Linked DNA regions of Homo sapiens. The protein of the gene in region 3 purifies or fractionates together with the protein of the main gene of each other region. This does not show direct contact. Each region holds a gene or a part of one and is shown on either strand. Other genes may lie near its edges.

What was found.
Region 1: the proteins of EDN3 (region 3) and RSPRY1 purify together in Homo sapiens (co-immunoprecipitation; 2 studies listed by BioGRID and IntAct, with this or other methods). This does not show direct contact.
Region 2: the proteins of EDN3 (region 3) and COL6A2 purify together in Homo sapiens (co-immunoprecipitation; 2 studies listed by BioGRID and IntAct, with this or other methods). This does not show direct contact.
Region 4: the proteins of EDN3 (region 3) and MEGF8 purify together in Homo sapiens (co-immunoprecipitation; 2 studies listed by BioGRID and IntAct, with this or other methods). This does not show direct contact.

Annotation. Positions count from the first base shown.
Region 1 is NC_000016.10:57,210,329-57,217,328, forward strand, and holds part of RSPRY1 (RING finger and SPRY domain-containing protein 1 isoform 1 precursor), read left to right. Parts: intron 1-2,643; coding exon 2,644-2,770; intron 2,771-3,559; coding exon 3,560-3,618; intron 3,619-5,778; coding exon 5,779-5,845; intron 5,846-6,575; coding exon 6,576-6,707; intron 6,708-7,000.
Region 2 is NC_000021.9:46,093,801-46,101,112, reverse strand, and holds the start of COL6A2 (collagen alpha-2(VI) chain isoform 2C2 precursor), read right to left. Parts: upstream 3,002-7,312; 5' UTR 2,940-3,001; intron 1-2,939. UniProt on the Homo sapiens protein: Collagen VI acts as a cell-binding protein.
Region 3 is NC_000020.11:59,296,455-59,303,622, reverse strand, and holds the start of EDN3 (endothelin-3 isoform 1 preproprotein), read right to left. Parts: upstream 3,013-7,168; 5' UTR 2,811-3,012; coding exon 2,759-2,810; intron 2,214-2,758; coding exon 1,901-2,213; intron 1-1,900. UniProt on the Homo sapiens protein: Endothelins are endothelium-derived vasoconstrictor peptides.
Region 4 is NC_000019.10:42,328,635-42,335,665, reverse strand, and holds part of MEGF8 (multiple epidermal growth factor-like domains protein 8 isoform 1 precursor), read right to left. Parts: intron 2,062-7,031; coding exon 1,898-2,061; intron 1,660-1,897; coding exon 1,453-1,659; intron 632-1,452; coding exon 451-631; intron 370-450; coding exon 281-369; intron 1-280. UniProt on the Homo sapiens protein: Acts as a negative regulator of hedgehog signaling.

The DNA.
Region 1 (7,000 bases), on a different chromosome or scaffold from region 3:
CTTGGCTTCTCAAAGTGTTGGGATTATACGTGTAAGCCACTGTGCCCAGCCTAGGTTAAAATTTTTTAAATGTTAAAAATAGAAGCATTTAAGGCTGGGCGCGGTGGTTCACGCCTGTAATCCTAGCACTTTGGGAGGCTGAGGTGGGTGGATCACCTGAGGTCAGGAGTTCGAGACCAGCCTGAACAGCATGGTGAAACCCCGTCTCTACTAAAATACCCCGTCTCTACTAAAAATCAGCCGGGAGTGGTGGCAGGCACCTGTAATCCCAGTACTCAGGAGGCTGAGGCACGAGAATTGTTTGAACCTGGGAGGCAATGGTTGCAGTGAGCTGAGATTGTGCTACTGCACTCCAGCCTGGGCGACAAAGCGAAACTCTGTCTCAAAAAAAAAAAAAGAAGCATTTAGGTTGGGCGCAGTGGCTCACACTTGTAATCTCAACACTTTGGGAGGCCAAAGCAGGCAGATTGTTTGAGTCCAGGAGTTCAAGACCAGCCTGGCAACATGGTGAAACCCTGTTTCTACAAAAAAATCCAAAAGTTAACAGGGTAACGTGGTGCATGCCTATAGTCCCAGCTGCTCAGGAGGCTGAGGTGGGAGGATCACTTGCAATCTGGAGGTCGAGATTGCAGTGAGACAAGATGGCGTTATTGCACTCCAGCCTGGTTAAAAAAAGAAGTATTTGTATCTCAGGTGGCGATCTTTATTCAGAAGCTAGAAGAGAATGTTGAGTTGCTTCGCTGATTTTCTTATCTTTCTCTAAGCAATTTCCTCATAACAAAAGTTTTAAGAATGTTTTTTATTAAGAGGAAAAACTGGGCTGAATGTACTGGCTCATGCCTGTGATCCCTGCACTTTGGGAGACCAAGGCAGGAGGATCAGTTAAGCTCAGGAGTTTGATACCAGCCTGAACAACATAGTGAGACCTTGTCTCTGTTAAAAAAAAAAAAAAAAAAGAAAGCCAGGCACGGTGGCTCATGCCTGTAATCCCAACACTTTGGGAGGCCAAGGCAGACAGATCACTTGAGGTCAGGAGTTCAAGACCAGCCTGGCCAACATGGTGAAACCTCATCTCTACTAAAAATACAAAAATTAGCCAGCACGATGGCGTGCACCTGTAATCCCAGCTACTTAGGAGGCTGAGGCAGGAGAATCACTTGAACTCGGAAGGTGGAGGCTGCAGTGAGCTGAGATTGCACCACTGCACTTCAGCCTGGGCGACAGAGTGAGACTCCATCTCAACAACAACAACAAAAAAAAGTTAAAACTGAAAGCACTTTTGAATCTTACTCAAATGTATTAATGATTAGTGTAACATTGGTTATCCTTTACATAGAACAAAAGCATCGAACTTTCATTGCTTTCCCATGTGTTTTACAGAGTCCTTTTTTTTTTTCTTTTTTTCTTCTTTTGGATTCTGGCATCTTTCATTTTTAAGATGGAGTCTTGCTATGTTGCCCAGACTGGTCTCAAACTCCTGGGCTCAAGCATCCTCCCACCTTGGCCTCCCAAAGTGCTGGGATTACAGGCATGAGCCACTGTGCCCAGCCTCAATTCTGGCATTTTCATTCATCTGTTTAAGCCCAGTGCAGAAAAACATTGTGGACGGAAGGGGAAAGTCTTTAGCGTAGTCACCAATGAATTGACCTTTGCCTAGGCTTATAAGAGCTGCCTGTTTCAATTTGCCTTCAACTCTGTTGGGGCAGGGTGCAGTGGTTCATGCCTATAATCCCAAAACTTTTGGGGGCTGAAGCAGGAGGATCACTTAAGGCCAGGAGTTCAAGACCAGCCTGGGCAACATAATGAGATTCCCATCTCTACAGAAAATTAAAATTATCTGGGCACTGTGACATGTGCCGGTAGTCCCAGCTACGAGGGAGGCTGAAGTGGGAGGATCACTTGAGCCCAGGAGGTAAAGGCTACAGTGAGCCATGATCACTTCACTGCACAGCAGCCTGGGAAACAGAGCAAGAGCAAAAAGAAAAGAAGAAAACTCTGCTGGGATTTGTTTTTGCTTAGTAAAACTTTTTTTAAAGTAACTTTTTACTTCAACATCACCAGCCTTTAATGTTTTCATAATGGCATCTGAGTGGGTTTAATCTGTTTAGTGATTCAAGAATATGTAGCATATATTTGATACAACTTAAGCATTCTGAATGAAGTGGAATCTAGTAAGTCATGTAAGGAGACTTTCAGGTTGATCAGATATTTCCCATCAATGATATCATTAGGGTACATTGCATAATTTTTATATGGTCATTCTGAGTTTATTTAACACCTGGTTATAGCTCCCCCCACCCCCCTGAGACGGAGCCTTGCTCTGTCGTCCAGGCTGGAGTGCAGTGGCACGATCTCGGCTCACTGCAACCTCTACCTCCCAGGTTCAAGTGATTCTCCTGCCTAAGCCTCCTGAGTAGCTGGGATTACAGGCGCGCACCACCACACCTGGCTAATTTTTGTATTCTTAGTAGAGATGGGGTTTCACCATGTTGGCCAGGCTGGTGTCGAACTCTTGACCTTGTGGTCCGCCCGCCTCGGCCTCCCAAAGTGCTGGTTATAGCTTTTGTCTCAAAAAAAAAATGAGCCTGGGAAAACAACCTGTGTAGTATATGGGTCAAACCCACTTGTACTTTTTTGTTTTAGGATGCACTCCAGAAATTGACTGAAATTCTCAATTTAAATGGAGAAGTAGCTTGCCAGGACTCAAGCCATCCTGCCAAACACAGGAACACATCTGCAGTCCTAGGCTGCTTGGCCGAGAAACTAGCAGGTAACTTTGGGACACTCCACAGTGGAAGATCTTAAGTTGTTTGACATTAAAGGGAAATTTGTACTGTATGTCTTTGATCAAACTGCTATACCAGAAAGAAATCTCTTAAAAATGATATTGAGAGACATAGACTAACTGGAAGAAAATTACTGAAAGGCTACAGAGGTGAATGCAATTTAATTTAGCTTTGTGGATTTTCAGGGGAAATTTTAAAAGAAAAAAGTTGTGCTTATTTGCTTTAAGAATAAGGAGCGAGGAAAAGAAAAAAGGGAGAAAAGCTAAATTCAGCATAACAAAGATATGTATGTGTGTATACAATATATAATTTGCATATATACACACTTTATAAAGTTTAGCTCGATTATGAAGACATACAAGGTAGAGGGAGAGGAAAAGGAACTTCTGGTTGGAGCAGTTCCTGAGAAGCAGGTATTTAATTTGTTTATGAATGTTACCCATTTTAAGAAAGTTAACAGCAAAGTACAGGGGCATAGCTCAGCTACTTACATCACGTAATGTGGAAGAAACAATGGATTAGAAATCAGAACATGTGGCTACTGGTTTGGACTCTCCCATGTGCTTGCCAAGTGCCCTGGAGTTAGTTGCTTAATTCTGTGGGCTCACTTGCTTAACTGTGAAATGGAGCTAGTACTATTTTCTACCTCAGAGCAGGAGGCTTTAATAAGATAATGTGCATGAAAGAGTTCTACCAAAACAATTTGATTGTTACCAGTGATTTAAAATAATCTGGCATTTTAATTATATCAAGTGTTTGTTGTATTTGTCTAGGTCCTGCAAGTATAGGTTTACTTAGCCCAGGAATACTGGAATACTTGCTACAGTGTCTGGTAAGTGAGACATCAAAACTATTTATTCTTAGTCATCTAGAAGTGGGCATCATCTAGAACTGTGCATTTTCTCAAATTGCTGGCATAGCCACTGGCACAGAGAATGGAATCAATTGTAAATTTTATTTGCAGGTGTTTCCCGAGTGCTTATTTATTCCCTCCTATGTTTAAAAAAGAGAGTGGGATTGGAATTTATCCCAACCAGCAAAAACAGCTGAGTTAGTCTGGTTTTAAATTTAGTCATAAGATAGCTGCTATGATTGGCTCTTTTGCATGTTCCTTGAGTTTGCCAAATGGTAATAGGGACCTCCACAGTAGAAACAATTACATGGCGTTCCAAGCCAGGAGGCCATCAAGTCAGATTCCCAGTATATATAAATCTCTACTCCTCCCTGCCCTCCCCCTCACTGCTACTCTTAAAACTGTTGTCACTGGAATATTTAATATATTGTCTATGAAGCTTCTGGTTTGCTGAGGCTGTGCCCTCAGATCTCTCATAGTTCTGGCCTGTGGTCTTGAATGGTCTGTATTTTTAAAAGTTATTTTTGTAGGCCTAGTGAGCATTGGCCCTTTTCAAAACTCTGGTCTGAAAACCCTTATTTGTCAATACCCACTGATACGTGCTTAAAACACTTACCTTACTCTCAATGAGCACTCTGGGGATACAACATGGCAGTCCTATGATTTCAAGAGGTTTATTGGTTAGTTGAGGAAACAAAACTACTCAGACAAGGTAATTAGCCTCCATTTTATCACAGGATGTGATCATGGGAGAAAGTACTTCATCAAGACTAAATGAGGGCCGGGCACGGTGGCTCATGCCTATAAGCCCGGCATTTTGGGAGGCTGAGGTGGGCTGGTCACCTGAGGTCAGGAGTTCAAGACCAGCCTGGCCAACATGGCGAAACCTGGTCCCTACTAAAAATACAAAAATTAGCTGGGCATGGTGGCATGTGTGTGTAGTCCCAGCTACTCAGGAGGCTGAGGCAGGAATTCACTTGAACCCAGAAGGCAGAGATTACAGTTAGCTGAGATCTCACCACTGCCCTCCAGCCTGGGCGACAGAGCGAGACTCCATCTCAAAAAAAAAAAAAGACTAAATGAGAAGGTGGGTGGTATGGGTAATGAGAGCCGGGGTGTCATGAAAGTCAGACTTCCTGATGAAGGTGGACCCTCAGCTGGGTCATGCTATAGATGAGGATTTTATTGTGCCCAGAGGAGGGAAAAAATTGGTTTCTTAGCTAAGGGAACATCACAGGCAGAAGTCCAGAGACAGAGAATTGTCTGATGAGAGAAGACAGTGTTCAGAGATAGGACACAGACTGAGTAGCCAGCTAGAAAGGGTTTAGGGCCTGAAAAGCCAGGCAGAGGGATTTAGATGGATATGAGAAGAAATAGAATGCTGAATAGGCTTTCCAGCAGCAGGGATGGTGGTTATGTGAGGTTTCCAGAACTTAGGAGGTACCAGGGAAGTCAGTGGGAATCATCTGATGTTCTGGAGCTCCTCTGGTGGCTCCCAATGTAGCAGTAGGGAAAGCACAGCTATGAGAAGGTGTCATGTTCAACAGATAGACCTTTCCTTAAAGGGGAACTCATGTGACATGAGCTTAAATGTAACTAAAAGAGTTCACTTGTTGCTTTCTCCTGTCTACCATCAGCATTTGTAGAATTCCTTTCAGGGAACAGCTTAAAAACTGAGCCATTAATTGTTAATTTAATTATTTATAATTTTGCAACTTGTTAGTGATAAGTGGTTCTTTTTAGGATTCTAAGTAAAATATCATTTTTAGTTTATAATTCTAGGTTTCTGTTTGGCTTGCATAAATGAATGTGAGAATGAATATTTTATTTAACAAAGCCCTAATGTAAGTTTTATTAAGTAAAATAACATAGTGTATTTAACAGGATACTTTTGAAATTTCCAAATCTATAAATTAACCTAGTGACTTTAAGAAAAAAATACAAGATTAAGAGAGCCTGTCCAGTTCATTACTAACATTATTAGCCAAATGGATAATTGAGAACTTGAATGAATGAAACTTTTCTGACCACTCGAAAAAACATCTAGCACATATTGGGCAAGGAAATGAAACTGATAACTTGCCACCTCTGCAGGGGAATGATTTTTTTTTTTTTTTTTTATCTTTTGTTGTTTTTCAGAAGTTACAGTCCCACCCCACAGTCATGCTTTTTGCACTTATCGCACTGGAAAAGTTTGCACAGACAAGTAGGTATAGTGACTTCTTGCACTAATGATCTTCTGTATTGGTTGTTAAAAATTTTATTTTTCTTAGTTACTGGATAAGCCTACACTTTGAACCCCATCAGATGGGCATACATTCTGTTTTCATCTGGATAGACACGTTAAAGCCAATGAAGTATAACAGGGACAAAGGCAAGGATTTTCTCACCTAAGAATCAAAACTTGGTAACCATGTTTACTCACTTTTTATAGCCAAAAATTTAGTGATGTGATTGCTAGTTTCTAGAAAAAAGTATGGTGGCTCTTGCCCATAATCCCAGCACTTTGGGAAGCTAAGGCCAGAGCATTGCTTCAGGCCAGGAATTCGAGACCAGGGTGGGCAGCATAGCAAGACTCAATCTCTACAAAAAATTTTAAAAAATCAGCCAGGCATGGTGGCATGCACCTATGTTCCTAGCTACTTGGGATGCTGAGGCGGGGGGATCACTTGAGCCCAGTAGTTCAAGGTTACAGTGATCCATAGTTGTGCCACTGCACTCCAGCCTAGGCAACAGAGTGAGACCCTGTGACTAAAAAAAAGGAAAACAAAATAGTCAAAGCTCTTTGGCTATGTTTTCCCTAGAAATTTTAATTGAAGTCTAATCTAGTCTCCAATTCTTTAATTGCCTCTTCCCCCTCCTTAGCAATACTAATTTGCTGAGCAAATCATTCTACCCTTTCATTGTTAATTCAAGGATTATGTCTTTCCAAACAGGTGAAAATAAATTGACTATTTCTGAATCCAGTATTAGTGACCGGCTTGTCACATTGGAGTCCTGGGCTAATGATCCTGATTATCTGAAACGTCAAGTTGGTTTCTGTGCCCAGTGGAGCTTAGACAATCTCTGTAAGTGGGAGTTGTCCTTTATTAAAATGTCCGTTTCCATTTCCAGACTCATTTCTTTCATAGGCTCACTGGTCTTCCTTTTGCAATGGTAAGTATGAGTCCTCATAAGGACCTCTACTGGCAGGTTGGATATATTCTAGCAGAAAAGTATCCTAGAGACCCTTTAGACAAGAATTACATGGTATGCTTCTAATTTCAGCATTTTCCTGTTCAAAAACCTTTACTGGCACCCAGTTTCCTGCTGCATCAAAGCCCTTAATTATATGGCACTGTCTAACCAGCTCTTTCCAACA
Region 2 (7,312 bases), on a different chromosome or scaffold from region 3:
ACACCCATTAGGATGGTTAACATTTAAAAAAAACCAAGCGAACCCGGAAAATGACACCTGTTGGTGCAGATGTGGAGAAACTGGACCCTTGTGCACTGTTGGCAGGAAAGCAAAATGGTGCAGCCACCGTGGGAAACAGTGAGGCAATTAATTCTCAAAAAAATGAAAAAATCAAATGATCCACATTTCCACTTCTGGGAACATACTCAAAAGAAGTGAAAGTGGGATCTCCAAGAGGTATCTGTGTGGTGTGTTCATGGCCACATCATTCACAGTAGCTCAAACGTGGAAGCAACACAAGTGTCCAGCAACAGACGAATGGGTAAACAAAATGCAGGGCATGCATGCAGTGGAATACTGCTCAGCCTTACAAAGGAAGGGAATGCTGACATACGTTACAGTGTGGATCAATCTGGAGGACATTAAGCCACGTGAAATAAGCCAGTCACAAAAGGAGACATTTCATACGATTTCACTCATATGAGTCACCTAAATGGCCAAATTCCTGGAAACATAAAGTAGGATGGTGGCTGCCAGGGGAGGGAAGGGGTGATGCGAGTTGGTGCTCCATGGGCTTCAGTTTGACAAGAGGAAAAGAGTTCCGGAGATGGACCTTGGTGATGGCTACACAACACTATGAATGTACTTACTGTCGCTGAACTAGCTGCACACTTAAAAATGGTTAAGACAGTACATTTTATATTGTATACCACAATAAAAAATTCGGGAAAATAAAGCTTTTTCAAATCAATAAAAAAAGAAAAAACCCCCCAAACACCCCAAACAAACAAACAAACAAACACATCCATGGCCTGGGCAACATAGTGAGACCCCGTCTCTTAAAAGAAAATTAGCTGGGCACAGTGGTGCATGCCTGTAGTCCCCGCTACTCGGAGGCTGAGGTGGAGGCTCGCTTGAGCCAGGGATGTGCAGATTGCAGTGAGCAGTGATAGCACCACCACACTCCAGCCTGGGTGACAGAGCAAGACCCTGTCTCAAAAAACAAACAAACAAACAAAAAACCAAAAAAACCCAAAAAGCGAACATCCATTAGGAACATGGGGACATCACAACCAGGCAATGCACATCACTACACACGGTCAGTGATCAAACAGCCCAAATAGCCTTGTACTGCACAAAAACCAAAGACATGCAGAACAAACCCCCCAACAAGGCATCATTCCTTATCTATGAAATGAGAAAAAAAAAAAAAAAAAAAAAAAGACAGTGCTGCTATCCATTGTGGAGACAGGTTCCCCGCCACTTCTGGGATGGGCATCTGACGTTTCTGACCTCTGGACCCAGATGCCGCCCTTCTAAGAGCAGGCGCCCTGTGAGCTGGGATTCCCACCACCCCTGCCCATTACAGCCTCCACTGCAGGCCAGGAAGGGCCGCTGGGCGGGGCTGGGTGTTTGGATCCTGGGCGGACCTGGGCAGCCCCGTCCCAGCCAGTGCCCCGCGGGCTGGGTAGGGCCCCTTCCATGAGCAGCACCAGGACCCCTGCTTGTGGCGGGTGAGCCCCGCATCAGGCGCCCGACTTTGCATAAACGTGAAATAGGCCACAGGAGGCAGCAACTCAACGTGCAGGGCCGTGTTTAAGAGAAAGCATCTCACCGGGCCTTTCTTTCCTTTTTTTTTTTTTTTTTTTTTTTTTTTGAGACAGTCTCGCTCCCTCACCCAGGCTGGAGTGCAGTGGCGCGATCTCAGCTCACTGCAGCCTCCGCCTCCCAGGTTCAAGTGATTTTCTCCTGCCTCAGCCTCCCGATTAGCTGGGATTACAGGTGCCTGCCACCACGCCCGGCTAATTTTTTTTTGTATTTTTAGTAGAGACGGGGTTTCACCCTGTTGGCCAGGCTGGTCTCGAACTCCTGACCTCAGGTGATCTGCCCGCCTCGGCCTCCCCAAGTGTTGGGATTACAGGCGTGAGCCACCGTGCCCGGTCTGGCCTTTCTTGAAATAATCACCAGAGTCGAAGTGCAAGGGGGCCTCCAAGCCAGAGCTGTGTTATCCCAAGAACAAGGAGCTCCGCGGATCGCAGGCCCCTCCTTTCTGGGTTCCGACCCCAAAGGGAAGGTCCCTTCTCCAGGGGCGTCCTAGGCGCGGGCACCGGGGTTCTGCTGGCACAGCCCGGATGGGCGCCGCTCGCCCGCACACCTGCGGCTCCACAGAGGGCCGATCCGTTCGGTTGCCAGCAGTGGAGACCCAGGCCCAGCGGTTCCACCAGCGCCCCGGCGGAGTCCCAGGGCGGGTGTGGGCGGCCCGGCAGGGGCTGCGGGTCGCTGTCAGCCCGGGTCCCGCCGCCCTGGGGAGCCGCCTCCGTCTGCAGCTTCTCCTGGGCCTGGCGGGGCCCTGGTGGGCTCCAGGCCGGGAGGGGCGCAGCGATGGGGCGTCGGGGCCACCCGCGTCCCCTCCCCGCCCAGTCCCGCCCTCGGGCACCGAAAGCCCCTCCTCCCCCCGCCCCGCCGCCCCTTCCGTCCGGCCCGGGGAGAGGCCCTGCGCCCCCGGAGGTCCCAGCCAGCCGGGGCGTCTTCCCCGCGGGCCGGAGCCGGACCCGAACCGCTCGCAGACGCGGGGCCTGGCGGGGCGTGCGGTGCCGGGGTCGTCTCGGGAGCGGGGGTCCCAGCACCGAGCTCGGGCGCAGACAGGGACCCCCCCACCCCGCCCAGGCCGGCTCCGCCCCAGAGGAGGCCGCGGGGAGGTGGCCCCAAGTCGCGCGCCCGAGGGTCGGACCCAGAGACGCGGAGCCACAGGGGCAGGCGCGGCCCCAGCCCCGCGAGGAGGAGCCCCGAACCCGCCGAGCCCCCCGCCGTCCCTGGGGCTGGAGTCCCCCTTCCCGGGGACCCGAGGGACGGAGCCGCCGCCGCCGCCTTCCCAGGACTCGGGGTCACCCCCCGCGGGCCGAGCGGCTTCCAGGGTGCGGGGTCCGGGAGGCGCTCACCTGGTCCCGAGGAGGCTCCGCTCCCGACGGCCCGAGGCGCGGGCGCCGAGTAAGCAGCAGGGAGGGAACCGCGGCCGGCGCCGCCCCCTTTATACCCCGCCCCGCCGGCCTGACCCGCCCCGCCGCCAGGAAGCGCTGCGGCCCCGCGGATGGGAGGAGGGGGCCGGGGGCACGGGAGGGGGATGGGAGGGAAGCGGGGACCCTCGAGGGCGGGAGGCTGGAGGAGGTGGAGAGGGTGGGGACCCCCCTGCAGCCCGGGCCGAGCTCCCCCGCCAGCCCCTGCCCGCTGCTGCTCGGACTTCGCGTCCCGGGCCCGGCCGCCCGTCGCCCCCGCCCCATTTCCCGGACGACCTGGCTGGGGCTGTGTCCGCCTCCGGGGCCCTGGGTGTTGGGGACCGCGCCCCGCACGCAGGGCCGACGGGGGCCCTGGGACTCGCCCCTTGGTAGCAGCTGCCCTGGGGGGTGCAGGGTTCCCCCCATCAGCCCCCCGACCCCTCCCCTACCCCGTGTCCTGTGTCCGGCTTGCTCAGGCCTCCCGCGAGAGGCCCCGGGTCAGGAGCTCCTGCAGAAACTGCCGCTCCTGGGGCCTGAGGGTGGGGAGCCGGGAGGGCAGGGACAGCAGAGCCTGGGCGCGGAGGTTGGGGCAGAGCCTGGGCATGCGGCGAGCCACCCCTGCCACCCCTTTCCCGCTGGAAACCACAGGTGGGCTTGGTGCTGGGCCCTGGGACCACCGTGAGGTCCCCACCTGAGCCCAGCCGGGGACAGAGTGACAGGGGTCCCTGGTAGGGCTCTGTCTGGGGTCCCCACTCCCCACCCTGGTCACAGTCCCCCAGCCAGGGCCGGGGTTCCTCCTTGAGGTGAGGCGCAGCCGGGTTGGGGAGAGGTCCCTGGGCTCCGGGACAGGGCTCCCTTCAGAGCTGTCCTGGAAGGTGGCGGAGCGGCTGGGGGCGAGGTCCCTCTTCTGATGAGCAGGTTTGCAAATGTGGTGTGTGTGTGTGTCTGAGACTGAGTGTGTGTGGTGTGTGCATCTGAGTGTGTGGTGTGTGTCTGTGTCTGAGACTGAGTTTGAGTCTGTGGTGTGTGTATCTGTGTGTGGTGTGTGTCTGTGTCTGAGACTGTGTGCATCTGTGAGTGTGTGGTGTGTGTCTGCGTCTGAGGTTGAGTGTGAATGTGTGTGTCTAAGTGTGCCTGAGTGTGAGTGTATGTGCCTAAGTGTGCCTGAGTGTGGCAGCCACATGGTAGCCATGAGTCCAGGGCTCCTGCCTGCTGCTCCTGAGCACAGCTGACGGCGGGCACCGTGTGCCACTCCCCTGGGTCCATGCCGAACTCTCACCTGGGCAATGCCTCCTGCTTCCAAGCCAGCAGCTCCCAGGGGGAAGCCAGGCCCCTCCTCACAAGACCAGAATCCTTTAGGGGTTACCTTGGCTCCAGAAGTTCTCCCTCGGCCTGGCCAGCACTGTCTAGGGGCACGTGCTGGCCAAGGCTCCCCGTATCTCCTTCACAGGGGTCTCACCTGTGGTCTGAGGCTTCCGTCCTCTTTGGCCACCCCCCCAGCATCCTTCACAGACATTGCACTGATAAATCTCCAGTCACGTCAGAGCTTCCATGGCACCTGCCTCTTGGAAGACCCCAATTAACACAAGTGGTGCAGGAGGGGCCTGAGACTCAGCTGGTGCGGTGGCCGTTTCCCGGCCAACACCGAGGACACCATTCTGGTTGATGTGGGGATATGGGTAATCTTTGGCACAAAGTTAGGGCCCCAATTGTTAAATGTTTTCACCAAGAGTGATCTGGGACGTTTTCCTGGTGGAAGGGGAGGCCTTGTGGGTGTGGCAGTTTCCCCCTTTCAGTGCATGGGGGGAGTGGGGTTGATGCTCCACAGAGGGATGAATGGAGATTGCGACGTTACCCACGGTTGCCCATCAGGCTTGGTGTGAGAACAAAGGGCCTCTCTGGTTGCTGAAAAGGAGTCCCATGTTTGGCAGAGGTAGAACCAGTATGGCTGAGGAGCCGACAGTGACTGTGGGGACCACCTAGCTCTAGGCATGTTTTGATGCCTGGCCACGGCTGGCCTATGTGAAGGTCTGGACCCCGGTTGGGAAAATCTGGGACCCTGAAACATGGGCTGAGACATCCAGGTGGAAGCCCTGAGGGCATGGCCCTGCAGACCCCTGTCCCCTCAGAGCTTGCAGAGGGGCCCCTCCTGCCCTTGGAAGCCAGCACTTCCTCTGTGCTGGAAGATGCTCCAGGGGCCTCCCCTACCAGAGCAGCAGGTGCCCTCACTGGGGGCTGCTCCACCTTGTCTCTTGGCTGCCAGCAGTGACTAGGGAGAAAGTCCAGGGTAACCTGGATGGGGACCTGCTAGGCCTGACCAGGGAGTAGAGAGGTTGCATGTCCAGGAACTGCACGAGGCAGCCAGCATGTGCCTGCAGGAGCCAGGGAACACCCCCGGTATTAGATTTCCAGGGTGCTTTATCCAGGGGGACAGAAGAACTATTGAGGCGGAGGCACTTGCTTGGCACATAGGATTAGTTACCTGGCAAGTTCTGCAGGTCGTGGGTCAAAGATGATTCTGGGATGGCTCCCAGAAGCCTGGAGAAAGCGATGGGTCATGTTGAGCCAAGCCGCCCTGGCGGACGGCAGAGGAAGGAAGAAAGAGGCCGAGGGCGGGGACTCCAGTAAAATATCGTGGTTCCCTACTCCATTCCTGGACTTGAGCTAATTTCCTGTCTGGAACCATTGATTGCAGAGGTGGCCAGGTCACCAGAAGGAAGGACCAGGCAATACCTTGACAAGGATGTTCTGTAGAATCCCGCTGTCACTCACTCAGCTGGCTGCACGCTGGGAAAATCCAGAGATTTTGAGGACAAATGGACGCGGGATGTGAGTGGACCTTGATACTGGAGGCCAAAAGTGTCGCTGTGGCCTCCCTGTTAGAGAAGGGGCTGACGGGGCCAGGTAATAAAAAGGAATCCTGGCTAAAGTGTTGGGCACAGTGAGACCCCTGGGCCAGAAGACCATCCAGTGGCCGCTTCCCTGCCCCCTGAGTATGTAATTATAATTTATGTACTTGGTGGCTGGAGTAGCCATATATTGGATCCCAGGCCTGTGTGGTGACAGACATCATAGTGGGGAAGTCCCCTTTCCATGGCCAAGAGAGTAAATCACAAACCACGTTGCATCCTGGGAGGATGGCACCACCGTTAAAGGCCTCACGGAGGCGAGGGTGGTGGACTGTCGTGTCTAATTCTCTGGCCTGGTCATTGCAAAGACTGATGGATCCTAGAAAGTGACGCCAGACCACTTAGCCTGAACCCGGTAGTAGCTCCAGTTGCATCTGCTGTGTCAGACGTATCATCGTAGCAGATTAATGAGGCCAGTGATTGGCCATTGCATTCTTTTCTATTCCAATTAGAAAAGAGGATCGGAAACAGTTTGCATTTACATGGGAGGAACAACAATACTCATTCCCAGTTTAGTGCAGGGCCACGCTAACTCTGTCCTCTGTCCTAATATTGCCTGAAAAGATCTGGGCACCTGAGCAGTGCACCGGACACCACACTGATCCATTACAGTGACGACATAATGGGCAGGAGGAGGAACAGGAGGGTCATGAGCTAGAGGCCTTATGAGACACATTTGCATCTGTGGGTGGGAGGTGAACTCCGAGGATTCAGGGACCTAACTTCATGGAAGTTTTTAGGGCACCAGTGATCAGGTTCATACCAGGACATCCTCTAAAGTAAAAGAGAAATTGCTACATCTTGCATCCCCTACTTCAAAGGAGGAAGCACAGGGCCTGACAGGCCTTTTTGGGTTCTGAAGGCAACATATTTAATTCCTGGGGGCACTGCTCTGACCCACGGCTTGGCTGACATGGAGGCTGCCAGCTTCGAGGCGGCCAGGAGCAGAAAATGACTGTCTGAGCAGCCCTGCCATCTGGGCCACGTGACCCAGCAGCCCCTGTGGTGTTGGAGGTGTCAGTGTGGGAGCAGGCAAGTGTGGGGCTGCGGCAAGCCGCAGTGGGAGAGCCAGAGCCTCTGGGTTTGGGTGGAGGCCGTGTCACCTGCAGAGGAAGCTGCTCACCTTTAGAGAAATGCTTCCTGTGGCCCAAGCAGGTGGGGCAGCCCAGCCGTGCATCTCTGTGCACACCAGGACCTGGCTTCAGGTTGGACTGATCAGGGGAGGCTGGGCACTTGCTTTGAGGCCTTGCTGGGACCTGCAATTTCCACCCTATCCCTCCCATGAAGGGGCCCCAGTGATGGCTGCCGTGTTGGGTTTCTGTTTGTCTCTGCAGATGGCAATGACAGCAGTAGTCCCCTGGCAGCCACACACCCCTCTCCAAGAACCCCAGCGTGCCACCTGCCAGAGCC
Region 3 (7,168 bases):
TCCGGGGTTTGGTAAACAGGCAACGAATGAAAGAGATGGTTTCCAAATCCTCTCCCACCTGCCCACCACCCCAGGTTCCTGTCTGTAATTCCATTAGCTTTCTTCTTTCTCCTTCTAGATTCACAGCTGGGGATTCTGGCCAAGACAAGAACTCGGTTCCTGGTGACTGCCCAGTGCCCTCCATTCTATGAAGTGAATTTGATCAGAGCACAATGATGCAGGATAAGAATCAGAAAGGGCAGTGCCAAGGTGCAGGGGCTACAAGGAAAGGTGACTCCCCTCGCTATCTGAGGATAAGAGGCAATTGATGATGGCCCAACACTCACAGCTTCTATCTTCCCCACAAAGGGAAAGAAACAGGGAGGCACCTCCCATCCTCTAGGTGGACACAGCCCAGCCAGCAAATCAGGGTATCACGACCAGCTACAGAATTTATGGGACCCAGGAGAAAATGCAAATGTGCAGCTCTTTGTTCAGAAAGTATTAAGGATTTCAAGACAGTGACAGCAGGACTTTAAGCCGAGCCAGAGTCTTTCTGAGTGCAGGACTTTGTGCACGTGTCCTGCTGGCTCAATGTGAAGCCCCTGCCTGCCCTTCAAGCATGGTGGGGTGATGTTCCAGATCTATCATGGATGTGATTAGAGGTCTTGTCCCCTGGTCTGAAAGACATTCCACCCCTCAGGTTTACTACCCTCGTCTGCACTTCATTTTTGAGGTGCCGATGACACAAGGTAGGTAAGTGAGCCCCATGAAAGCTGCTACCAAGGGCTCAGAGGTTATGGGGCTTGGGGATAAAGGTGACCGTGAGGAACCTGAATCAAGACGGCTCCGGGACACGGTGGCAAAGGTGCCTTTCCAGGCTTCCAGGGGCTTGCATTCACAACCATCTCTGAGTTCTCAGCTAAGAATCCCTAATAGGGTACAAGCAAGAGTCCCAAGAGATCCCATGAACACCCAGGGAACAGAACTTAGAGGTGTCTGATCCAAGTCCCAGATCTTAGAGATGGGGAAGCCAATGCCAGAGAGTTGGTGACCCAGGCAAGGTCAAGCCCTCTGTATGGCCTGCAAGATGATGTGCCTGCAGGAGGGGTTCCCTGAACACTGGGAGTCATCAAAGCCTCCCCCTGTCAGAGCCACACTCTCTCCACATGGCCCCAGGAGAAGGCTGACTTCCCCACTGGACGAACCCCAAGACAAATTCAGGATGGTGCTGTCTAGGCCCTAGGGTAAGAGAGTTTCTAAGGACTGCAGGAGAGAAGGGAAGGCCCTCTGTGACCATGGCAGTGGGTGACTGGAGCCAGCCTGTGGAAGGCCCAAGGACGAGCTGATGTGAATTCACCCTGCCTTGGCATCCAGGGGGGCCCACAGGAAGGAAGGGAGCCCATCCCAGGGGAATTCTACCCCGAGTGGACTGTGCAGGTTCTGTCAGGCTCAGCTAAACCCACCCTTAGACTCCCTGGAGACCAGGATGCTTTCAAGGAATTTTAAACCCCTTGGATCCTGGTGGGGTCAACAGTGAGTATGAGCCCCCTTGGCCCCTGGGGAATGAGATAAACTTTCGGGGCTTTCTCTATCTCAGAAAAGAGGCTCAGAGAGACATCTCAGGTATCTAATCCCCCTGGTCAGTTCACTTCATTCAGAGGGAGGGCTCCTCCTTCCACAGGATCAAACTCAGGATTGAGTTTCTCTTGGGCCAGGCCCTCAGGGGGGATGTGGGTCACACCCCTGACCTGCAGAAGAGACCTGGGCTGGCAAGAGGCCCCAGCAAGAGCTAAAGGCTGTGCCAGGGCAGGCTCTGGGCTAACTGAGCGGGGCTGGGGTGGAGTGAGGTCCTCCTGGGAATGAGCAGATGTGGGCCTGGTCCGGGAGCCACGTTCCTCACCACAAAAGGCTGACTTACTCGGGAGTGTTGATCCAAATGATGTCCAGGTGGCAATAGTAGACACACTCCTTGTCCTTGTAGGTGAAGCACGTGCAGCGCCTGGATCGGTGGTGCTCAGGGGCCCCCTCGGCCGCCTGCTCCTGCCCAGGGCTTCCAGGGCTTGGACCCTGCAGTGCTGTCGGGGCCACAGTCCCCTCGCCAGGGCCAGCCACAGTCTCCTCGCCAGGGCCAGCCACAGTCTCTTCACAGTCCCCCTCAGATCTGGCTGCAGTGGGGGCCTGGGACACGCCGCGCCTGCCAGCATCCCCAGACTGGGAGCAAGGCACGAATCCTGCAGAAGGCAGATTGAGGGGCTCCTAAGCTGAGTGTGCAGACCCCTCAACACCCGCCACCCCCAAACACCTGAGGAGGGGGGTGGAGCAAGCAAAATGTCTGCAAAGTTTCCAAAGCTCTGCGCAGTTTCTGAAAAGTTTCCAAGCTATCTGCACACTCTGTGAAAAGCTTGCAAGCTATCTGCACCCGTTGAAAACTTGCATGCATTTTGCATACTTTCTGCAAACTTTGCCAGGGTTTGGCACAGCCTCTGAATAGTTCGCAAACTTTCTGAAAAGTCCCCAGTTTCATGAAAAATTGACCAAGTCGGCCCAGGCAGCAGGTCTCCAGCCAGTGCGCGGGCTGCAACTCCCGGAGCCCGTGCGGGTAGTCGTTGCGCGCCGCTTCTGCTCCCCAGCCCTCCCCCAGGCGTCTTCACGAGTGCAGAGCCCAGGCAAGAGTTTGCTCCCCGCGACGCACATCTTCTCCGCGCCTCGGGTCCCCCGCCCTGGGTCCTTTTGTGTGCGCTCGCGCCAGGAGAGGCGCGCCGCCCCGTGCGCTTACCTGCGGCGGAGGTCACTGTGAGCCCGAAAAGGAGCCACAGCCCCGGCTCCATGAACCTAGATCAGGCGCCGGAGCACCGGACCAGGAGGACGGCCGCTTGTGGCCGCGAAAGGGCACTGGGGCCGGGTACAGCTGGCCTCGCCCTCCAGCTGTGGGGGTTCGAGGCCGGCCGATCGCTCGCTGCGTCTCCAGCTCCGGCCAGGAGTTGGCTGCGGCGGTCATAAACTTTCAGAGCGCGCTGCCCATCCCTGCGCGGAGCTGGCCGGCTGTGGCTCGGGCTTTTCTGGCTTCTGCACCACCCCCGTCGCCTCCCCGCCCCCCAGAGGGGCTGGAACTGCCTCGCCGGGCCTTTGAACCCGGGCGCACTGGGGGTCGCCTCCCAGGCGCTGGGGGGAGCTGGCCAGGAGCGCAGCGGCCCGAGGCGCACCCAGGACAGCGAGGGGCGGGGGCGGCGTGGCGTGGCGCGGCTGGGTGGGGTGGGGTAGGGTGGGGTGGGGGCCGGGACAGCTGCCAGCTGCCGGAAGGCCACGAGAGCGCGCGCACACACGCACACGCGCGCTCACACTCACAGGCGCACCCCCGCCCGCCAGTTCGCCGCTCCGGAGTAGCAGCCCCCCATCCAAGAGCAAGAACAGATGAGAAAAGGCTGTGCTCAAGGGGTGTTATCTTTTCTATCAGGGGCTGAGGGAAAGACACATTTCTCATTGTTCCCCGAGTGACACCTTCCCCTTGAAGAGCCTGCTTGCCAAGGAACTCGGTGTACTTTACACTCTTGACTCACGCCTCGGGCTGGCTCCCTACCTCTCCCAGGAGTTCAGAGCCTGCGTGTGGGGCAGTGGCCTGGGAGCAAAGTCAACAAAGATCCTGGGTTAGCGGTCCTGTGGTGTCCAGGGCTTCCTCAGCCATCTGCACAGGTTGGGTGGCTTCAGGTGAGAGTCGGGCTCCTCTCCCTAAAGGCCAAGTTCATTCACACAACCGTCCCTACCAAGGGAAATGACCTCCCAAGAGAGCCCCCTACTTCCTTCATAGCCTTCCAAGTCCTGTGTGTGGGAGGCTGTCCCCATCTCCAGCTCAGATAAAAATGTCTGAGACTGGGAAGTCCTCCTGACTTCTCAGGGCACTTGTGGTCAAAGGACCCTCCTTTCATAACAGATGGGGTTGGGGGAGGGGCAGTGCTTCACATCTGTAATTCCAGCTCTTTGAGAGGCCAAGGTGGATGGATTGCTTGAGCCTGGGAGTTCAAGACCAGCCTGGGCAACATAGCGAGACCTCATCTCTAAAAAATGGGGTTGAATTGGGTCCTGCCCTCTACTAGCCTTAACGACCAGCTTCTGAAAACTAGAAAGCAGCTGAAGTGACCAGAGCAGTTTCTGAGGACAGTCCAAAAGAGTGCTACAACATCCCCCTGGCTTGATAGCTCAGGACACCTGTCCTCTGAACACAGCTGCTGTACCAGGAGGAAGCCCTAACAAGCCCACCTGGAGAGATCACCTGGAGAAACCTACGTGGAGAGAAACCGAGGCCTCCCAGCCGACCACCAGTGTCAGCCACTGACCTGAGTGAATGTGCCTTCCGATGATTTGAGCTCCCAGCCCTCAAGACTTCCAACTGAGGAATAGCTGTCCCGCTGTACCCTGTCCGAACTTCCCACCCACACAATCCATGAGCATAATAAATGGTTGTTTTACAGCACTAAACTCTGGGTAAATTGGTACAGAGCTGCAGTAACTAGAGTAGCACTCAAGCTTCCAGCACTGAAGCTGATGCTGAAGTTCTCCATCCCCCCACTCCCATCCCATCCTGCCTAGCCCTTGAATCCAAGTGTTTATTTGTTTGTTTTTGCACTTGATGCTTTGAAAATAAGAAAAACCCAAGACTCACAATATCTTCTGTTCCTGCTGGGCTAGAATTTGGATCATTTTAGTATTATCTTTGTTTGTTGGGGCTACTATAACAAAACGCCATAAGCTGGGTGGCTGATAAACCGCAGAGTTTTATTTTTCACATTTTTGGGGTCTGGAAAACCAAGATCAAGGTGCTGGTAGATTCGGTGTTTAATAAGGGCTCGATTTCTGATCATGGATGGTGACTTCTCACTGCATCCTCAGTTGTGGAAGGGTCAAGGCAGCTCTCTGGGGGTCTCTTTTCTAAGGACACCAACCCCATTCATGAGGGCTGCAACCCTCATGACTTAATCACCCCTCAAGGGCCCCACCTCCTGACATCATCACCTTCATGGATAGGATTTCAACAGATAAATCTGGAGAGGACAAATATTCAGACCATAATAATTACTATCTCTTTGGAATTAAAATTTCCATCTTCAACAAAATAAAAAGTTCTTGGATTGGGGGATGGCTGGAGGAATAGAAAATATACTAATCAGCTAAAAGGAGAAAAGGAGTAGGAGGAGGTTTCCGGGTACCATGTTCAGACACAGGAGGTATCATGGCTGCTTAGACCACTCTCTGGGTCTATGGCCTTCAGTAGCTTGAAGCCGACCACCACTTGTCTTCACTGGGACTAAAAATCAACAAACCCTGGATGAGCCTCTCAGGCACCAGGAGGTGCTAGCCAAATACCAGGATGGAGCTGGCCCTGCCCTCTGGGTCTTCTACTCTAGTTGAGGTAAGGAAGTTCAGAAATAGATCGCCAAGGATCCAGGATGCTGAGAACATAAAACGCCGCACAGAGCTAAGAGAAGAAGACAGTGTGTTCAGCTGGATGATCAGAGGAGGCAGCATTGTCCTTGGTCCCTAAAGCAAGCCGGGCGCCATGATTTGAGGCAGCAGCCTGCAGTGACACTCGCCAACACCAGCTCTCAAGCGAAAGAGCTCCCTTTCCTACTGTTCTTCTGGCTTCTGACGATGGCCAGGGCAATGACTCGATGTGTCTTTAACAGCTCTCGAACAGAGAGAGAGCTGTACAAAGGGATTTTTGAACAAAGGGATACAAAAGGAATGTAGCAGGCCATAGGCTTGTACAAAGGGATAGCAGGCCATAGGCTTGGAGCCTTTGTCAGGCTGTGGAATCGGGCTTACTGTGCATGGTAGTGATTGACATAAAATTCCTTTCTAAATTAATACACTTAAGTCAAGTAAAGGTAACCTCAATTACAATATGAAGTAATTCATTGTAAAGCCGGCTTGGAGACTTGGCAAGATCACAAAGCCTTCTGGGTTCCAGGCTAAGAAATGTGCAAAGGAAATATACAATTCATGTAACTCAATGGCAAGCTGGTGGTTTCCATCATTGTTTTGCCCTTGTGACAACTCAACAAAATTTATGCTAACATTATCCCCATCTCACAGATTAAAAAACTAAGGCTCGAAAAGGTCAAAGTAACCAGCCTACAACCATGCATCTATTAAGTGGCAGTCTATCAGGATTCAAATTTGACTCCACATGATTCCAGGGACAGAGTTCATAATGCTTAAGCAGCGCTGCCTCTGGAACTCATACCCAAGGTTTTAATGGTTCCCATTTTCTTCTGTGTATCATTGACAACTCACTGCCTCTCCATCTGTCTAGTTTCCATTCCATAATCTCTGATGGAAGGTCATGTAAAGGAATGATGACCTCTACAGAGGACACGAATGAATAGGCATTCTTCTCCGCAGACGTCTGCCAATATTCCTTGATCCTCCTTCACTGCCTCAGCATCCAATGTGCCCCTAGGAGAAGTCATGTATCAGGACACTGCTGGGGCTCGGCCAAGTGCACGGCTTGGTCATTGTGTTTATTTTTCCTCAACTTTTTCCAAGTCAGCAGATGTGCGACTGATACTTTGAGTCCTTACCACTTACATTTTGATTCAAAACCCAGCCATTAAGAATGTTGCAATTTATCTCAGATAAGCATCCCCTCAAGTTGTCTCTTTATGTGCTTTATGATTCTTTGAAGATTGTTTTTCCTTTAATTTAAGGGATTTAAGGGAGAGTAACATAATACATTATGTAGTTTTCCATCATGCTGGAATTTCTTCTCCCCACCCACCCACAGCAGCAGGAACTCTGGACTTACTCAAAAACCAAGTAATTAAGTGCTTTTCCATGTTGTCCAACTCTTAGCTGTGTCTTCCCTCACTGGCACGTGGTTCATTCTAAGATGCACTGGAGGAAGTGCCAGGCTCCAAATCCCTTGCTTTACAAATGAGGTACACTGTGTATAATATTCTCCGTGAAATAAAATGATCACAATGCATTCTGAACTTTAGTGCTATCAATAAAATGTGTTCAAAGCCTAAGAGAAATCGGGTGATCCCAAAAGCAACAAAACTTGTTCAAAAGAGTCCTGAAGTTTTTTCCTGTGTTTTCTGCTGTGGACATTTGCTGTTGTTGCCCTGCCAGCATCCCCATCCCTCCAGGTCTGGTAATGGACCACATCTTCCCCTGGGGAACCACCCCTCCC
Region 4 (7,031 bases), on a different chromosome or scaffold from region 3:
GAAACAGAGAACACAGAAGCCCAAAAGTCAGACAGACGAAAACAGAGACAGATTGAGCAACAGGAGACACATGGAAAAATAAGATGCACAAAGGCAGATAAAGGAAGAGGAAGAAGAAAAAAGAAAACCGGAGAGAAAAGGCAGAAACAGGGAGAAGTAGGTTCCTATATCAAGCTGCAGGAACTGTGGGAGCACTAGGTGATAGGGGATCATTCCGGGGGTCCCCGGCTGGGTCTGATTGAGTGGAAAGGCTCCTCCAGGGCAGAGGAGGGGTCCATACCGGGGCAGGACTCAGGTCCCAAGACTCCCAGGTGTTGGCGGAGAAGTTGTATAGGACGAGGTCACCCAGGGCATTGTTGAGGTCCTGGCCTGTGGAGGGGTGGATAGTCTCATGCCCTGGCCATAGGCTGCCGGGCCTCCAGATCCCAGATACTCGCCCCATCTGCTCACCTCCGAAAACTGCCAGCAGCCCTGGTGGGGACAGGAAGGCGCCAGCTGCCCCAATACGGGCAGAGAAGGCAGGGTCCCTGGCACTCACGTTGTGCCACCACCCAGCCCCCTGGTTCTCCCACAGGTGCAGGTCACAGGCACGTCCCAAGAAGCCAGGCTCACAGCGGCATGGTCCCAGGGGCTGCGGGAAAGGAGACATAAAGGCAGAGATAAGAGAGGGAGAGACAAGGACAGAGAGACAAAGGAGACACAGAGAGGAAAAGAGGCAGAATGAGACAGACAGGGCACAAAGGGAGAGAGAAAGAGACAGACAGGAAGGGAGAGGATGGAAAAGGAAAGAGAGAGAGAGAAAGGGAGACAGAGAGAGACAGGAAGAGGGGAAAGGCAAACTGTCAGACAGAAACAAGAGACAAAGAGAAACAATCAGAAGGAAGCAGACAGACGGAAAAAAGAAGACCAACAGAAAAAGGAAAAGATGCACAGAGAAAAAGGAGAAAAGACAGAAAGACGGCAGGCTGGGAGAATACAGACAGCGTAGTTGACATTCAGCCTGGACTGAAAGAGCTCAGATCTGGGGAGGTCAAGGCGGGGAGGGCTCAAAGCGCAATCCAGATTGAAAGCTGGATGTACACAGCTTCGGCGTAAGGTCAGTGGTGCGAGGCTGGAAGTCATGGCAGGGGTCCAAGGCCACACAGAGTGGCTGGATGGGAGGACAGATTTGGGCCTGGCTGGAGGAAGGAGGGTGGTGTTCACAGATGAGAGTGGGGTATAGATGAGAGTGGGATATCCTCAGCAGGGGAGGCCCTGCAGGTGAAGGTGGGGTGGGGTTGGAGTAACAGGTGAGGGGCAAGCTCTGGAAGGAGAGGGAAGTGGGTGTCACGGAGGAGGGTGGGGTGGTGGGGGGAGTTTCATGCAGGAGCAAGGTCAGACCTAGGAGATGGGCGTGGAGGCTGCGCTCACAGATCAGGGCCCCAGGGGAAACAGGGCTGGGGACCGGCTCACCGAGGCGCAGGTGCCGTGGCTGCCACAGTAGGCTGAGCACTCCTGCAGGCCACAGTCAGGACCCCCCCAGCCCGGCTCGCAGGCACACACACCCGGTGGCTGGCACTGCCCGTGGCTCTGGCAGCCACCCGGGCACAGGGAGAAGCGGAATGAGGCGTTAAAGCCCAGCAGGTTGTAGTTGGCATCACTGAAGAGGTGCAGCAGCATCTGCGGGCACAAGGTGTGCTGGGTAAGGTGGGCAGGGCCTGGGGATTGTCCTGGGAGGGTGGCCCACTCCTGCCCCCTTCCACCCTGGGGGACCCAGAGCCTCATCTCCTTCCTTTGCCTCTCTCCACCTTCCCTTGTCCCTGTGCTCTGCTCTTGGATGCCCTCTTACTGACTCTCTGTCCCTCCTTTCTTCTTCCATTTCCCTCGGTGTATCTGCCACGGCCCCATCCCCACTAACCTTGCCTGAGGAAGCTTCGATGGGCGGAGGTCGGGTGCTCCCACTTAGACTGGCAAGCAGCGGCCCTCGCGGGGAGTCACCGTCATACACGAACAGGTAGTCATACGTGCACTCTGTGTCCAGGAAAAGGAAGTCCAGCAGGATCCGGTGCTGGGGGCTTGGGGCTGGGAGGTGAGCACAGAGGGACCAAGCTCTAAAGCGGACCTTCTCCCCACACCTCCCTGCAGCCTCCCACAATTGTACACCAAACCCTGATCCAGGTGATGCTGGGGGCTCAAGAATGAGTCAGACCTGGGCCCCGCCTTGAAGGGGCCCCCAGTCTCATAACCTAGGGCAGTCAAGGGCTGTGACAGCCAGAGGGACAGGAGCCCAGAGAAAGAATCATAATATTCCAGACCTCTAGAAAGGTCACCTGAGATCAGAATGAACACTCCCACCATTCAGATGGGAAAATTAAGTACAGAGAAAACCCCATCCCAGTGGCCACACAGAGCAGAATCCAGTGTTCCTGATGCCTCTCTCTTCCTGTCCATGCCTGAGTTTCAGACATGTCCAGGCTGGAGGGTCAAGGTCATAATCCCAGTGAGAAGAGCACCTCCGTGACACCACCCCTGGCCCACGCTGAATAGAGCTGCAAGAGAAGAGTCCAGCTTCTTCCCCCAGAACAGAGGCCTAACCTTGGAGCGGCATAGTTCCCCTCTGTCCCCATCCAGAGTCTCACCTCTGCTTATTGTGATGGTTACAAGCACAAACTCTGGAACCAGACTGCCTGAGCTTATGTCTTGGCTCTGCCACCAAATAGCTACCAGCTGTGTGATCTTGGCCAAGTAACCCACCCCCTCTGGATCGGTCTCCTCATCTCTAAAGTGGGATATAGTGGTACTGTGGTGGAATCAAACTTATAGGCCACTCCTGCCATTGAAAGTTAATTCCCTGCCTCTCGTATCTGGGAAGAGCCTTAGTGACTTGCTTGACCAATAAAAAAACAGCAGAAATTCTGAAACTTCCAAGGCTAGATCATAAGAAGACTTGTACTTTTCACCTGGGCCTCGTAGAATGCTCCTTCTCAGAACACAGCTGTCATGATAGGAAAAGCCAAAGCCGGCTGGGCACGGTGGCTCACACCTGTAATCCCAGCACTTTGAGAGGCCAAGGCAGGCGGATCACGAGGACAGGAGTTTGAGACCAGCCTAGCCAACATGGCGAAACCCCGTCTCTACTAAAAATACAAAAATTAGCTGGGCATGGTGGCGGGTGCCTGTAATCCCAGCTACTTGGGAGGCTGAGGCAGGAGAATTGCTTGAACCTGGGAGGCAGAGGTTGCAGTGAGCCGAGATTGTGCCATTGCACTCTAGCCTGGGGGACAAGAGCGAGACTTCGTCTCAAAAAAAAAAACAAAGAAAAGCCAAAGCCACAAGAAAAGGCCACACACAGGCATTCCGGCTGACAGTCCCAACTGAGCTTCCAGCTGACAGCCAGCATCAACTGCCAGCCCTGGGAGGGACCTTCCTGGATGTCCAGCCAAGGTGAACATTCAGCTGACTGCAGCCCCAGCTGACATCTGACTGCAACCTCATGAGGAGCAATAATGCACACGAAATGGTGACAACAGAGTGGGGTGGGTGGCTCACGCCTGTAATCCCAGCACTTTTGAGAGGCCAGGGCAGGTGGATCACCTGAGGTCAGGAGTTCCAGAACAGCCTGGCCAACATGGTGAAACCCTGTCTCTTACTAAAAAAAAATACAAAAATTAGCCAGGCATGGTGGTGCAAGTCCCAGCTACTCAGGAGGCTGAGGCAGGAGAATTGCTTGAACCCGGGAGGCAGAGGTTGCAGTGAGCCAAGATTGCACCACTGCACTCCAGCCTGGGCGACAGAGGGGACTCAAAAAAAAAAAAGAGGCTGGGTGCCGTGGGTCACGCCTATAATCCCAGCACTTTGGGAGGCCAAGGTGGGTGGATCGCTTGAGGTCAAGAGTTCGAGACCAGCCTGGCCAACATGGTGAAACCCCGTCTCTACTAAAAATACAAAAAATTAGCTGGATATGGTGGCACATGCTTGTAATCCCAGCTATTTGGGAGGCTGAGGCAGGAGAATTCTTGAACCCGGGAGGCAGAGGTTACAGTGAGCTGAGATCATGCCATTGCACTCCAGCCTGGGCGACAAGAGTGAAACTCTGTTTCAAAAAAAAAAAAAAGAAATGTTGACAATGGGGCCCACATATCGTGGAGAGTGCCACTACCCCTAACACTGTCACTGTCTTATTCTCTGCCAGTCCTAGTTCAGGTAGCCTCTCTCATTCCACATCCCACATGAGAAGCCTTCTGAACAGGCAGCTCAGGGGAGTCCTCTGGGTGAGGGAAATTAGGAGGCCTAGGCTCTGGCTCTGGCTCTGGCTCTGCCCATGACCAGCTGGAGGACCCTGGGCCAGCCCTTTCCCCCATGACCCTCAGTGTGCCTATCTGGATCCTGGAGACACTCAGCCACCACTGCCAATGGCTGGGTGATCCTGGGCCAGTTCCATGGGCTCTCTGAGCCTTAGTTTCCATGACTGTAAAATGGGGATAATTCCCCCCACCCACAAAGGCTGGGGTGAACATTCAACGAGGTGATGACTCCAGCCTGCCAGCTTAGAGCCAGAGTGTGCCCTGGCTGCCCGGCCTCATCCTGTCTCACCAGAACCACTGATCCAACCTCCTTCTTCCCCTGACATGAGTCTCTGATCTTCCCAACTCAACATCTGGCCCCGTCCCTCCCCTGCCCCAAAGCCCTGCATGGCTCCCTACCACCCTAGGAGAAAGTCCAGGTCCCTAACCTGCTGTTCAGACCCTCGCTTTGTCTCAAATCACCCCACTGCTTACAGCTCTAATGGGAGCTGGGCCTTTGTACAAGCTTCTCCCTCTGTCTGCAACATATTATCCCTTCCCACCACCAGGCCTCTTCCTGATGCCCCCTAGCTGGGTTAGATGCCCCCTCTCCAGGGTTCTCACATCCCATTATAACCTTCATTCCTCTGGGCCAGGAACATCTATGTCCAGGTCTGTCTCCCTGCAGCCTACAAGGCCCATAGAGCAGGGCCTGGATGTGGACCTAATTCCCTCTGCAGCATTGCCCAGACCCGGGCTTGGCAAAGGCTCAGGAAATGCTGGATGATGAAATGAAGAAATACATAAAAGACAGAATACTAAAGCTGGAAGCTCTCCCTCAGGCTCTAACCAGAGCCCCCAAGACATCAGACACAGACCCCACCCATGCTTTGGGGAATGCAGAAGAACCATTCAGCACGGCCACACAACCAGACCTCCCAGAATCTTACCAGCCTCAACCAAACTATAAAGCTCTGTTTCTGGAATCACAAGTACATCTTTGTTAAGTGCCTGCTGGAGGCCAGCTCACCATCTGCCTCCCCAAGTTCTTCCCTAAGTTGAAGGTCTTCTGTTTCCACCCAACCCCCATACCACTCCAGACAGAAATCTGATCCCAAACTCCCTCCTGCTCAAAAGCAGGATGCCTCTTATCCATGAGGATGTTATAAGGACTAGGACTGGGCTGGGCGTGGTGGCTCACGTCTGTAATCCCAGGGCAGATCATTTGAGGCCAGGAGTTTGAGACCAGCCTGGCCAACATAGAGAAACACCATCTCTACTAAAAATACAAAAATTAGCCCGGCATGGTGGCACATGCCTGTAATCCCAGCTACTCAGGAAACCAAGGAACAAGAATCACTTGAACCTGGGAAGCAGAAGCTGCAGTGAGCCGAGATCAAGCCACTGCACTCCAGCCTGGGCAACAGAGCAAGATTCTCTCTCGGAAAAAAAAAGTCTAGGACTAGATAAAGTATGAACATAATACAAAAGTTAGTAGGTTGGTTGTTTATCTTTTTTTTTTTTTTTTCCCTGAGACAGGGTCTCGCTCTGCTGCCCAGGCTGGAGTATAGCAGCGCAATCTCGGCTCACTGAGACCTCAGCCTCCTAGGCTCAAGGGATCTGCCCACCTCAGCCTCGCCGGTAGCTGGAGCTATAGGCACATGCCACCACCCACCAAGCCCAGCTAATCTTTTGTAATTTTTTTGTAGAGACAGTGTCTTACCATGTTGTTCAGGCTAGTCTCTAACTCCTGGGCTCGAGTAATCCTTGCATCTCAGATTCCCAAAGTGCTGGGATTACAGGCATGTGCCACTGCCCCTGGCTGGTTGTTTATTTTATAATAGATAGAGGAAGATGTTGGTTCTTATAGGTAAGAAGTGACAGGCATTGGTAAGAACAGAAGATCATCAAGGGGGATCTGGAGGTCTCCCAGCCTCCTCCCTCACCCCAACATCTACCCAGTTGGTCCCCAAGTCTTATAGGTGAAACTCCACAAACATCGATTGCACTGTCTACACCTCTCCACCCCTCTAAGCCCCTGCCCTAGTTAGGAACTCATCCTCTCTTGCCAGATCAGCTCATCAAGTCTCCAGTCTGCCCCACACCCAACCTGAGGGCAATGCCCTACTCCTGCTCAAAACCTCCTGTGGCTGCCCATCAACCCCAAGGGGAAGGCCAGGCTGCTCAGTGTGACATTCAAGGCCCCTCTTCCCCTGCTTCTGGCTCTCATTACCTCCCAGTCAAAAGTGCCATAAGACCAGGCAAACCTAGATGGGGATCCTGAGACACTCCAGCCACCCTCACGTCTTCATAGAGGCTGTTTGCTCCCTTTTCCCACTCAATAAACTCCTATGCATGCTTCAGAACCCTATTTTAGTGGCTCCTGCTCTGTTATCTGCAGCACAGTCCTCTTTCCTCCCTAGGTACATCCACCCCACCCCTCCACTTTCCTTCTTAGCCCTGAGCACTGTCTCAGTGAACACACTGGGGGCTGAATATCTGTGTCCAGCCCCACCATTCCCAACCAGTCTGAGACGTTTTTTCTTTTTTTTTGAGGTAGAGTCTCGCTCTGTCACCCAGGCTGGAACCACAGATGTGCGCCACCACGCAGGGCTAATTTTTGTAGTTTTAGTAGAGAGGGGGTTTCTTCATGTCGGCCAGGCTGGTCTCTAAAGCCTGACGTCAGGTGATCCGCCCCACTTGGTCTCCCAAAGTGCTGGGATTACAGGCGTGAGCCACCGCACCTGGCCTAACCAGTCTGGGACTCTT